3 linked regions of the Homo sapiens genome follow. The protein of the gene in region 3 interacts with the protein of the main gene of each other region in a biochemical or structural test. Each region holds a gene or a part of one and is shown on either strand. Other genes may lie near its edges.

Region 1 (3,500 bases), on a different chromosome or scaffold from region 3:
GGAGGCCGGGGCGGGAGGATCACCTGAGGTCGGGAGTTCAAGACCTGCCTGACCAACATGGAGAAACCCCGTCTCTACTAAAAATACAAAATTAGCCGGGTGTGTTGCCGCATGCCTGTAATCCCAGCTACTCAGGAGGCTGAGGCAGGAGAATTGCTTGAACCCGGGAGGCGGAGGCTGCGGTGAGCCCAGATGGTGCCATTGCACTCCAGCCTGGGCAACAAGAGCAAAACTCCGTCTCAAAAAAAAGAAAGAAATAAATCAAGTCATATAATTACTTTGAACTTCCTCCTCTCAACGAACTTTCACTCAGAGCATTCCTCTAGGTGCATAGGCACAGATCAGATGTATTCTCTTTAATAGCTCTGGTATATCCCAGATGGGCCACAATTGATTCAATCACTGTCGTTTTGCTGGCATTCAGGTAATTTCCTGTTTGTGCATTTTCTTTCTTTCGTTTTCCTTTCCTTTTTTTTTTCTTTTGGTGCCAATATGGACAACACTTTAGTAATATCCAAGTTATATAGCCTAATCATGGAAGCTTTTGTTCCTATGAAATAGATTATAAATATAGGCCTGCTAGATCAAAGTGTTTGTATTTTAATATTTTTATTTGGTTATTTTTTTTTTGAGATGGAGTTTCGCTCTTGTTGCCCAGGCTGGAGTGCAATGGCACCATCTCAGCTTACCGCAACCTCTGCCTCCCGGGTTCAAGCAATTCTCCTGCCTCAGCCTCCCGAGTAGCTGGGATTACAAGCATGCGCCACCACCCCGGCTAATTTTGTATTTTTAGTAGAGACGAGGTTTCTCCATGTTGGTCAGGCTGGTCTTGAACTCCCGACCTCAGGTGATCCACCCGCCCCAGCCTCCCAAAGTGCTGGGATTACAGGTGTGAGCCACCGTGCCTGGCCTGGTTAATATATTTTAGCTAGCAGATACTTCCATAGCATTTATTGTGTCTCAGATACTATTATAAGCATTGGCAAATATTTACTCATTCAATCCTCCTGACAATCCAGTGGAATAGATACCATTATTATCCCCATTTTAAGGATGAGAAAACTGGTGCAAGAGGCAAAATAATTTGTTCAAGATCACACGATTAGTAAGTGGTAGAGTCTAGATGCAAACTGTAGTAGCAGAATAGTGGCCTCTAAAGATGTCCACGTGCAAATTCCTGAGACCTGTGAATATGTCACCTTACTATGGCAAAAGGGTCTTTGCAGGTGTTATTCAATTAAGGACTTTGAGATAAAGAGATTATTCTAGATTATCTGGGTGGGTTCAACGTAATCACGTGAATCCTTTCAAAGGAAAGGGCAGGGAGGCAGGAGAATGAGAGGAGATGTGATGTGATGAATGCAGAGGTGGGAATGTTGTGATGTTGCCGGCTTTGAAGACAGAAAGGGGCCATGCACCAAGGAATGTGGGCAGCCTCTAGAAGCTGGGAAAGGCAAGAAAACGTTCTCCCTGAGAGCCTCCCAAAGGAGCAAAGCCTGCTGACACCTTTATATACCTCAGTGAGACCTGTTTCAGACTTCTTACCTCCAGAACCATAACAGAATACATTTACATTGTTTTAAGCCCCTAAATTTGTGGTAGTTTGTTACAGCAGCGAAAGAAAATATAAAAACCCAGGCAGTCCAGCTTAGAGTCCATGTTCTTAACCATTACAAGGCTGCTTCTTCAAATATTACCAGGGAAAATACTGTTAGTTCCCCAGAAATATTGCTGTAATTTACTCTCACCGGCAGTGATAAGAATAAGTCTTGGTGGTGTGCGCCTGTAATCCCAGCTACTTGGGAGGCTGAGGTGGGAGAACTGCTTGAACCCAGGAGGTGGAGGTTACAGTAAGCCAAAATTGCACCACTGTACTCCAGCCTGGCCAACAGAGCAAGACTCCATCTCAAAAAAAAAAAAAAAAAAAAGGAATAAGTCAGCCCACCTGAGGCCAGAAGAAAGGGTCTCATCTGGGACTACACTGAGATCAACTTGTTCTGGAACCACCAACAGAGAGCCTACTAGCCAGCCAGACTGATACATAGTGCTCATCAATGCTACGTTTAATTAGAAATACTAAGCAATTATGAAAAGAACTAATAACTCTACAGAAGGCAATTTGGCAATACCCATCAGAATTACAAATGCATTTAACCCAGCAATCCTCTTTCTTTGGATCTGCTCTGCAGCTCTATCTCTACACATAACAAGATGATATCCATACAATATATTCACTGCAGCACAGTCCACAATAGCAAAGAATTAGAAGCCACCCACGTGTCCCTCACAAGGCAATTAGTTACATAAATTATGATCCACCCATACAACGGAATACTATGTAGCTGTAAGCCATTGAGGAAGCTCTTTATATACTGATAAGGAAAATTCTCCATGGAGAAATGAGGTTAATAATAGGAGTACTGGAAGGATTAAATGAGTTAATATATGGATAAAAGTTTGAAAAATGACTGGCATACAATGAGTGTTCAATAAATGCTAACTATTTGTATTATTATGATATATATTTTAAGTTAGAAATCAAGGTGCAGAAATGTGTGTATCAGATGCTACCTTTTGTGTAAGAATGGGGAAAAATAAGAATATCTTCATAGTTGATTGTATTTGAATAAATAAATATTAAAAGGACATGCAAATTAATAAAAGTGGCTATGGGATGGGTGGAATGAGGGTAGAGTAAGACATTCACTGCATACCTTTTTAGATTATGTTTGAGCCTTGTGAATGTATGAATGTATTCCTTTTTTTGAAATTAAAAAACAGAATACTAATAAATGTGGGCAATTCTATAGGGTATAGGAATAAAGGGAAGAGAATAAGAAACAGTTGTTATTTTCCCCCTTTGGATCTTGGACACTTGGGGAGAGGGGCTGTGTCTGATGTTGGATCCCCTTCCTTGGAGACAGGGTTCCAAGCCTGGAAGGGCACGCCTCAGGCAGCCTGGCTGGATAGAGAGCAAGACGTTCTGGATGGCCATAGCCTCCGCTGGGTCCTTTTTCTAAGCTTCTTTTGTCCTGAATGGGGTCTCCCTAGGGTGACTGGCCCCTGCTTTCCCTCTAGATGGAAATGGGCGGCAAGTGTCTGTGAGGTGGCTAGCCTGAATCAGACACCTGGGTCTAAAAGCCCCCAGCCCTCTGGTAAGACTGAGGTGCAGATCCTGAATCAAAGGGCTGCCACCCAGGGCCAGGAATGACCTTAGCCAAGCGGTTCCTTTACCTTCATTCAGAGGACACTCACTGAGTACCTGCTGCGTGCTTGGCACTTTGGAGGAGGCAGAGGTGAAGTGGGAAACTGCCCAGAAGGGCTCCGTGACAAGAACCCAGACTTAACCGTATCTTCAGAAAGGCGAAATAACATCTATTTGCTTCTGGAATACTCAAAACAATAAGCAAAAACACCACTAACTTAATAAGAAATTGCTCACCAAAGTGGCTAGATTACATAATAATTAAGAAAGAAAAATAGCATAATTCTATCTTAGC
Region 2 (3,500 bases), on a different chromosome or scaffold from region 3:
TTGAATCATTTACTTCTTCCAGGACACTGGGATTGTTAAGGATGATTTTTTTTTTAAAAAATGAAAGGTCTCACATATTTATTACTGAACCTAGCCAACCAACACGTTCATAACAGATTCAGAGAAAAAAATATATTCCCAATAAAACATGTCCAACTCTCTAGATAGTGGTGACATTTTCAGCTCGATATGGTAACATGATTGTGACCTTCAGACAGCATAAGTATGTTGTATCATGCAATGCCTTATAGACCCAGCTTGGTTCTTCTCCAATGGCTCCTTTTGGAGTTTTACCTGATTTTATTACCAGTTTTCATCCGAATCCACTGGGGAATGGGTCAATTTTGCTTTTGTTTCTTGGCCAGGAATCACTTAACCCTGAAAGTCTTGTGAGAAGACATGGCGAGAAGTGGAGTCAAGCACACACCATGATGGCAGATAAAGGAAGAGAGGCCGATAATCTTTTTTTTTTGAGACGGAGTCTCGCTCTGTCACCCAGTCTGGAGTGCAGTGGTGCCATCTCGACTCGCTGCAACCTCCGCCTCCCAGGTTCAAGTGAGTCTCCCTCCTCAGCCTCCCAAGTAGCTGGGATTACAGGCACCTGCAATCATGCTCAACTAATTTTTGATCTTTGTAGAGATGGGATTTCACCATGTTGGCTAGGCTGGTCCTGAACTCTTGACCTCAGGTGATCCGCCTGCCTTGGCCTTGCAAAATGCAGGGATTACAGGCATGAGCCACGGTGCCTGGCCCAGTTAATTTTTTATTAAGACATCTTTAGCATTCCATTTTGGAATTCCCTGAAGTTGTGATTTAAAAAAGTATATATATATAATGCTGATATTCTACTTAATTAATTTAATTAATTAATTTTTTTTGAGACAGTTTCGCTCTTGTTGCCTAGGTTGGAATGCGATGGCGCCATCTTGGCTCACCACAACCTCTGCCGCCTGGGTTCAAGCGATTCTCCTGCCACAGCCTCCCGAGTAGCTGGGATTACAGGCATGTGCCACCATGCCCAGCTAATTTTTTTTTTTTTTTTGAGACAGAGTCCTAGCTGGAGCGCAATGGCGTGATCTCTGCTCACTGCAACCTCTGCCTCCTGGGTTCAAGCATTTCTCCTGCCTCAGCCTCCTGAGTAGCTGGGATTACAGGCACGCACCACCACGCCTGGCTAAGTTTTTTTATTTTTAGTAGAGACGGGGTTTCACTGCGTTAGCCAGGATGGTCTTGATCTCCTGACTTAGTGATCCGCCTGCCTCGGCCTCCCAAAGTGCTGGGATTACAGGCGTGAGCCACTGCGCCCGGCTAATTTCATTTTTTTTTTTTTTTTTTTTTTTAAGTAAAGATGGGGCTTCTCCATGTTGGTCAGGCCGGTCTCGAACTCCCGACCTCAGGTGATCTGACTGCCTTGGCCTCCCAAAGTGCTGGGATTACAGGCATGAGCCACTGCGCCATCCCGGCTGATATTCTGTTTCTTTTTAAAAGAGTCATGGGGAAAAGTTCACACAGATACTGTTATTGAGCACCTTAGTTTTACAGTTTAAAATCTGGATAATTCCTGCAACGTGACTATGTTTACTTAAAGATACGTTGTATCGGTTATATTTTTTGGCTATTTTTGCATTCAGTTGCCTTTTCTGAGCTAATGAGGATCTGAAGGAAAAGACCTGAAGGAAGGAAGGAAGGGTGGAGTTTTGTTTGCTGGGCTGGTTGTTCTCAATATCTAGGGCCAGTTATTTTTAAAGGTTTTACCAAAGAGTAATATACATACAAAAAAGTGCACAAGAGTGTTTGGTTTGCCGAACTTTCACAAACTGAACACATCCATGCAACCAGCACTCAGATGAAGAACTGCTGTATTGACTTAACAAGTAGAATAGTTTTGTCTGTTTTTATACAGCATAACATTTTATAAGTGAAATCATACAGTATGTATCTCTGTGTGTTGGTTCTTTTGCCCGGCACTGTTTAGAGGTTTGTTCATTATTATTGTATATAGTTGTATGTTATTACATCTCATTGCTGTGTGGCTTTCCATTGTGTGGAATGCAGTACACTCAATTTACTTATTCATTCTGCTTTTGATGCCCATTGAGGAATTTTCTAGCACCTGTTTTTAATATGAGCCAAACTTATACCTTTTATAGCACCTTCTATTTCAGGATTACTTTTGGGCTGAATAACAGAAAGTTTGATTTATTGTAGGTTAAACAATTTTTTTTTTCTCATAAAACAAGAAATGTAGACAAAAGTAGCTCAAGGCTGATGTGGTAGCTCCACAGTTCCTTCATATTATTTTCTTCTCCATCCTTAACAGCAGTCTTTCACTCTGGTGCTTGTCTACTTGTGGGCACAAAAAAGCTACTTTGTGTTCCAGACAGGAGAAAAGGGAAAAAGTATGTTCACTTTATATCTCTTTGGCCAAAATGGGTATAAAAGAAGCTGGGAAATACGTTTTTTATCTGGGTAAATTTAGGTTTCCCTTTGTAAGGAAGAAAGGGAAAATAGATACCAGATAGGTAATTAACAATGTCTGTCATACTTCCAAGTCTGTTTGCTAGTACTTTTGGATGCAATCAAACTGGTTTGTTCTAGGCTTAGCATAGGTCTAGACTCAAAGGGTAAGGTTTACACAACCAGTAAAATTTTTAGTTATAGTTTTGAGTTCCTGAGAAGCTATCTGTGCATGACTAGTGTTTAACTACCATTCAGGGTTGAATGTAAATATTCAGAGGCCCATTGTGTTGACAGCTTTGACCTAAACCTTGAAGTTATACAGTTAAATCTGGTCAGTTCTGTTCTAAATCTCTAGTACCGTCTTACTAAGTTTGAACATATGCATCATGAAGATGAAAATATACATATATTTTTGTGTTTTTAGAATCGTGGGCCCAGTGCAGTGGCTTACTCCTGTAATCCCAGCACTTGGGAGGCCGAGGCAGGCGGATTGCCTGAGCACCAGAGTTCGAGACCAGCCTGGGCAACATGGTGAAACCCTGTCTCTATGAAAAAATACAAAATTTAGCTGGGTGTGGTGGTGTGCGCCTGTAGTCCCAGCCACTGAGGAGGCGGAGTTTGCAGTGAGCCGAGATCGTGCCACTGCACTCCAGCCTGGGTGACACAGCGAGACTCAAAATAAATAAATAAATAAAATGGAATTGTGGTAAATTATTTAAGTATAAGGGAAGTGACTTCACTGTAATTCTCGGTTTTTCCCTTTTAATGGTGCATTAGAATTATCCTGTTTAACCCTTTTTGAGCTTTCTTCATTAGGAAATAAAATAAATTGATATATATAGAATTTGAAGCTTGGAGTGACTTTTTTTTTTTTTTTCCGAGACAGTCTTGCTCTGTTGCCCAGGCTGGAATGCATTGGCGTGATCTCGGCTCACTGCAAGCTCCACCTCCTGGGTTCACGCCATTCTCCTGCCTTAGCCTCCCAAGTAGCTGGGACTACAGGCGCCCACCACCACGCCCAGCTAATTTTTTGTATTTTT
Region 3 (3,500 bases):
TTTAATTGTATGTTAAAGCTTTTCTTCCAAGTTAATCATAACAAAAATATACAAATGCTGAAATGACCTTTAAAATGTCTCACACTAAAGAATATGGCCAAATAGAAACAAAAAGAATTCACGTGATTTATCTTTTTAGTTAACCCAAATATTACAAGAAAAATCTAAATGATATTAATACTAGGATAACTTTGAAATCTAACTTTCAGAAAAACTATCAACTTCCTTCATCTTCAAAATCTCCACACCTTTTGTAAAATAAAATGATATCTAAAATATATATTATTTAAAGCCAACATATACTCTGTCCTCGTAAGTTTAGAAAGTGGATAAATGTAGTAGTAGGAATACAAACCCCTAAAATGTATATACCATAATAATTAACATACCATCAAGAAGTTACCCTGTTTCTTGCTTCAAAATTGAATCGAGGTGGGTACATTGTAAGTTTCAATATCAGTATATGAAATTTGCATAGAGCTATAAAGCCATACCTATATTCTGATAGCTTAGGTCATTCTCAACTCCTTTCTCCATGTCTAAACTTTTTGAATAGTTTATTGCCTGTTTCAGTTTTCTCTCTGTATGTGAGGCACTAGCAGTAAACTTGTACAGGTTTGATTTTTCAGATCCAAAATGAGCCACACTGGGTTTCTGTAAGAAGCAATGTTTTCTATGGAAATGCTGCTGTGCACTCTCAGGATCATGAAATGCTTTGGTGCAGGTGCCACACTTGATTACATACTGCTGCTCCTCCTCATCACTCTTTTCTTTGTGCACTTGATGGATATGAGTGTTCATGTCGGTTAAATTCTGTGCTGTTGCCGAACATAAACTGCAGCGAAACCACAGTTTTCCTTTATCCAGCATGATTTGGAGACATCTGCTATAATCTTCTTTTCTGTTGACTTTACAGATGTAACTCTCACGGCAACCACAAGTTAACTGGTTACTGGTCTCTATTACTGGAAAATCATCTTCGGTTTTAATTGAAGTTTCAGTTTTTTCTGACACAAATACATAATCTATGCTGTGGTGCTCCTCATAATGACTCAGAAATGCTTCTTCCACATTAAAGATAAGATCACAAAGCCCACAGAAGTATTTAATCTTTATCTCATTGTCATGCTCATCTTGGCAATGTCGGTACAATGTTTCTATCTTATGAAAAGGCTTTCTGCAGTGAGCACAGCTGTATCTATGAAACTTGTGGCTTGCCAAAGACATGCAGTGCTGTTTTACATATTCCTGGGAATCAAACATATCTTCACAAATCCGGCATTGCCATTTACCCCTCGGAGAACTATTTGCCGGGGAATGATCAATAACAGTAATAGCTGATGAAGGCTTGTTAGCAGTCAAATTATCCAATGTTGTAGAGGATGATGGCAAAGTTTCACCTTCTACCTCATCCATCTCATAAAAATATCTGTGTCCATTATGAAATTCAGTCACATGTGCCATGATAGTATCTTTCCTTGTTAACTCCTTTTTGCATGTCCGACACCAGAAAAGAAAGTTATTTAAATGTGCCCCTCCGTGAATCCGGCTCATGTGTAAACGAATGACCCCTGAATCATCACATACCTTTCCACAGACCACACATTTATAACCCATTGTGTTTGCTGAGAAAACATGCTTTTCTACTGCATCTTCACTTGGGAATCGCTGATTGCATTCACAGAACCAGGTTTTAACTACTGATTTTTCTTTCTGGACACAAGCAACACCTTCATGGCTTTTATCTTTTAAATTCATCTTCTTTTTTGGAATGGCAATGCACTCCAGTGAGCTAGATTCTTTAATAGACATGGTTCTTTTAAGTGATGAAAATTTTGATTGATCCAACAATAAATGCAAGTCAGAAGAAGGATCCTTGTTCCCTTCGCTGCTGTGGCAATAGAGTAAGACTGATTCTTCCACTGAGTTAATGACTCGGACTTTGTGTCCTGAATTCTGCTTATGATTTTGGGTGCTGGTTTCATCCACAAAGACTTGATTGCAATCTGGACAATAACCTCTTAATATGAATTTCTCTGCAACCTGGGTAATGCTCTTCTCAGCTACAGCTACAGGTCCAGCATTTCGACAATGAACTCTAAATTAGATAAAAAGAAATAGAAAGTCTTTCAGAAGTATTTTCTAAATATACCATTGCTGCATTTTATTGCAGGAATTATAAAATAACCAACGTATAAATAAGCACTAAAAGATACTTTTCAATAAAGATGCAAATGACATAATGATGTTCTATCATCTCAAAATACTTGAGTATTATCTGCACTTTATCTATTTCTAGTTAAAATACAAAAGGCTAAAACTAGATTCAAAATTTTTTAAATTCAGGCAAATTTTAGAAAACTAAAATCTGTATCAAAAGCACTGACAGAGGACCTTATTGAACAGGCAAATTATTAGACTCTCCATGGTAATTAAACTGTATGTAAGAACACTATGGTTAAGATTCTAGACAACCCAGTTCCTATTCTTTAATAACTGATTAATGTTGATACTATAAGGCTATGGTAACCAAAACAACATGTACTGGTATAAAAACAGACACACAGATCAATGGAACAGAATAGAGAACCCAGCAATAAAGCCACATACCTACAAACTACTGATCTTTGATGAAATTGACAAAAATAGACACTGGGGAAAGGACACCCTATTTAATAAATGGTGCTGATAAAACTTGACAGCCATATGCAGAAGAATAAAACTGAACCCATATCTTTCATCATATACAAAAAATAACTCAAGATGGATTAAAGGCTAAGACCTGAAACTATAAAAATTCTAGAAGAAAACCTAGGAAAACCCCTTCCGGACAATGGCCTAGGCAAAAAATTTATGACTAAGTCCTCAAAAGCAAATGCAACAAAGCCCTAAAATAGACAAATGGGACTTAAAAGCTTAAGCATAGCAAAAGAAATAATCAAGAGAATAAACAGACAACTTACAGAATGGGAGAAAATATCTGCAAACTATGCATCTGACAAAGGACTAATATTCAGAATCTACTAGGAACTTAACAAGAAAAAAATCCACAAATAATCCCATTAAGAAGTGGGCAAAGGACATGAACAGACATTTTTCAAAAGAAGACATACAACTGGCCCATAAATACTCAACATTACTAATCATCAGAGAACTTCAAATTAAAACAATGCGATACCATCTTACACCAGTCAAAATGGCTGTTATTAAAAAGTCAAAAAACAACTGATGTTGGCAAGGATACAGAGAAAAGGGAACACTTATACACTGTTGATGGAAATGTAAATTAGTACAACCTCTATGGAAAACAATATGGAGCTTTCTTAAAAAACTAAAAATAGAACCGCCCTTTGATCCAGCAGTCCCACTACTGGTATCTACCTTAAGAAAAAGTAAGCATTATATCAAAAAGACACCTACACTTGTACATTTACCGCAGCACTATTGACAATAGCGATAATGAATGGAATCAACCTAAGTGTCCATCAATGGATTATTGA

What was found. Proteins that work in one complex are often made in the same cells at the same time.
Region 1: of the proteins of ZNF451 (region 3) and PML, one has a biochemical effect on the other in vitro, tested with the Homo sapiens proteins (one study listed by BioGRID).
Region 2: the proteins of ZNF451 (region 3) and SUMO1 form a complex in vitro, tested with the Homo sapiens proteins (one study listed by BioGRID).

What each region holds. Positions count from the first base shown.
Region 1 is NC_000015.10:74,018,716-74,022,215, reverse strand, and holds part of PML (protein PML), read right to left. Parts: intron 1-3,500.
Region 2 is NC_000002.12:202,228,598-202,232,097, reverse strand, and holds part of SUMO1 (small ubiquitin-related modifier 1 isoform a precursor), read left to right. Parts: intron 1-53; exon of another isoform or gene 54-450; intron 451-3,500. UniProt on the Homo sapiens protein: Ubiquitin-like protein that can be covalently attached to proteins as a monomer or a lysine-linked polymer.
Region 3 is NC_000006.12:57,145,688-57,149,187, reverse strand, and holds part of ZNF451 (E3 SUMO-protein ligase ZNF451), read right to left. Parts: intron 2,099-3,500; coding exon 495-2,098; intron 1-494. UniProt on the Homo sapiens protein: E3 SUMO-protein ligase; has a preference for SUMO2 and SUMO3 and facilitates UBE2I/UBC9-mediated sumoylation of target proteins. Plays a role in protein SUMO2 modification in response to stress caused by DNA damage and by proteasome inhibitors (in vitro).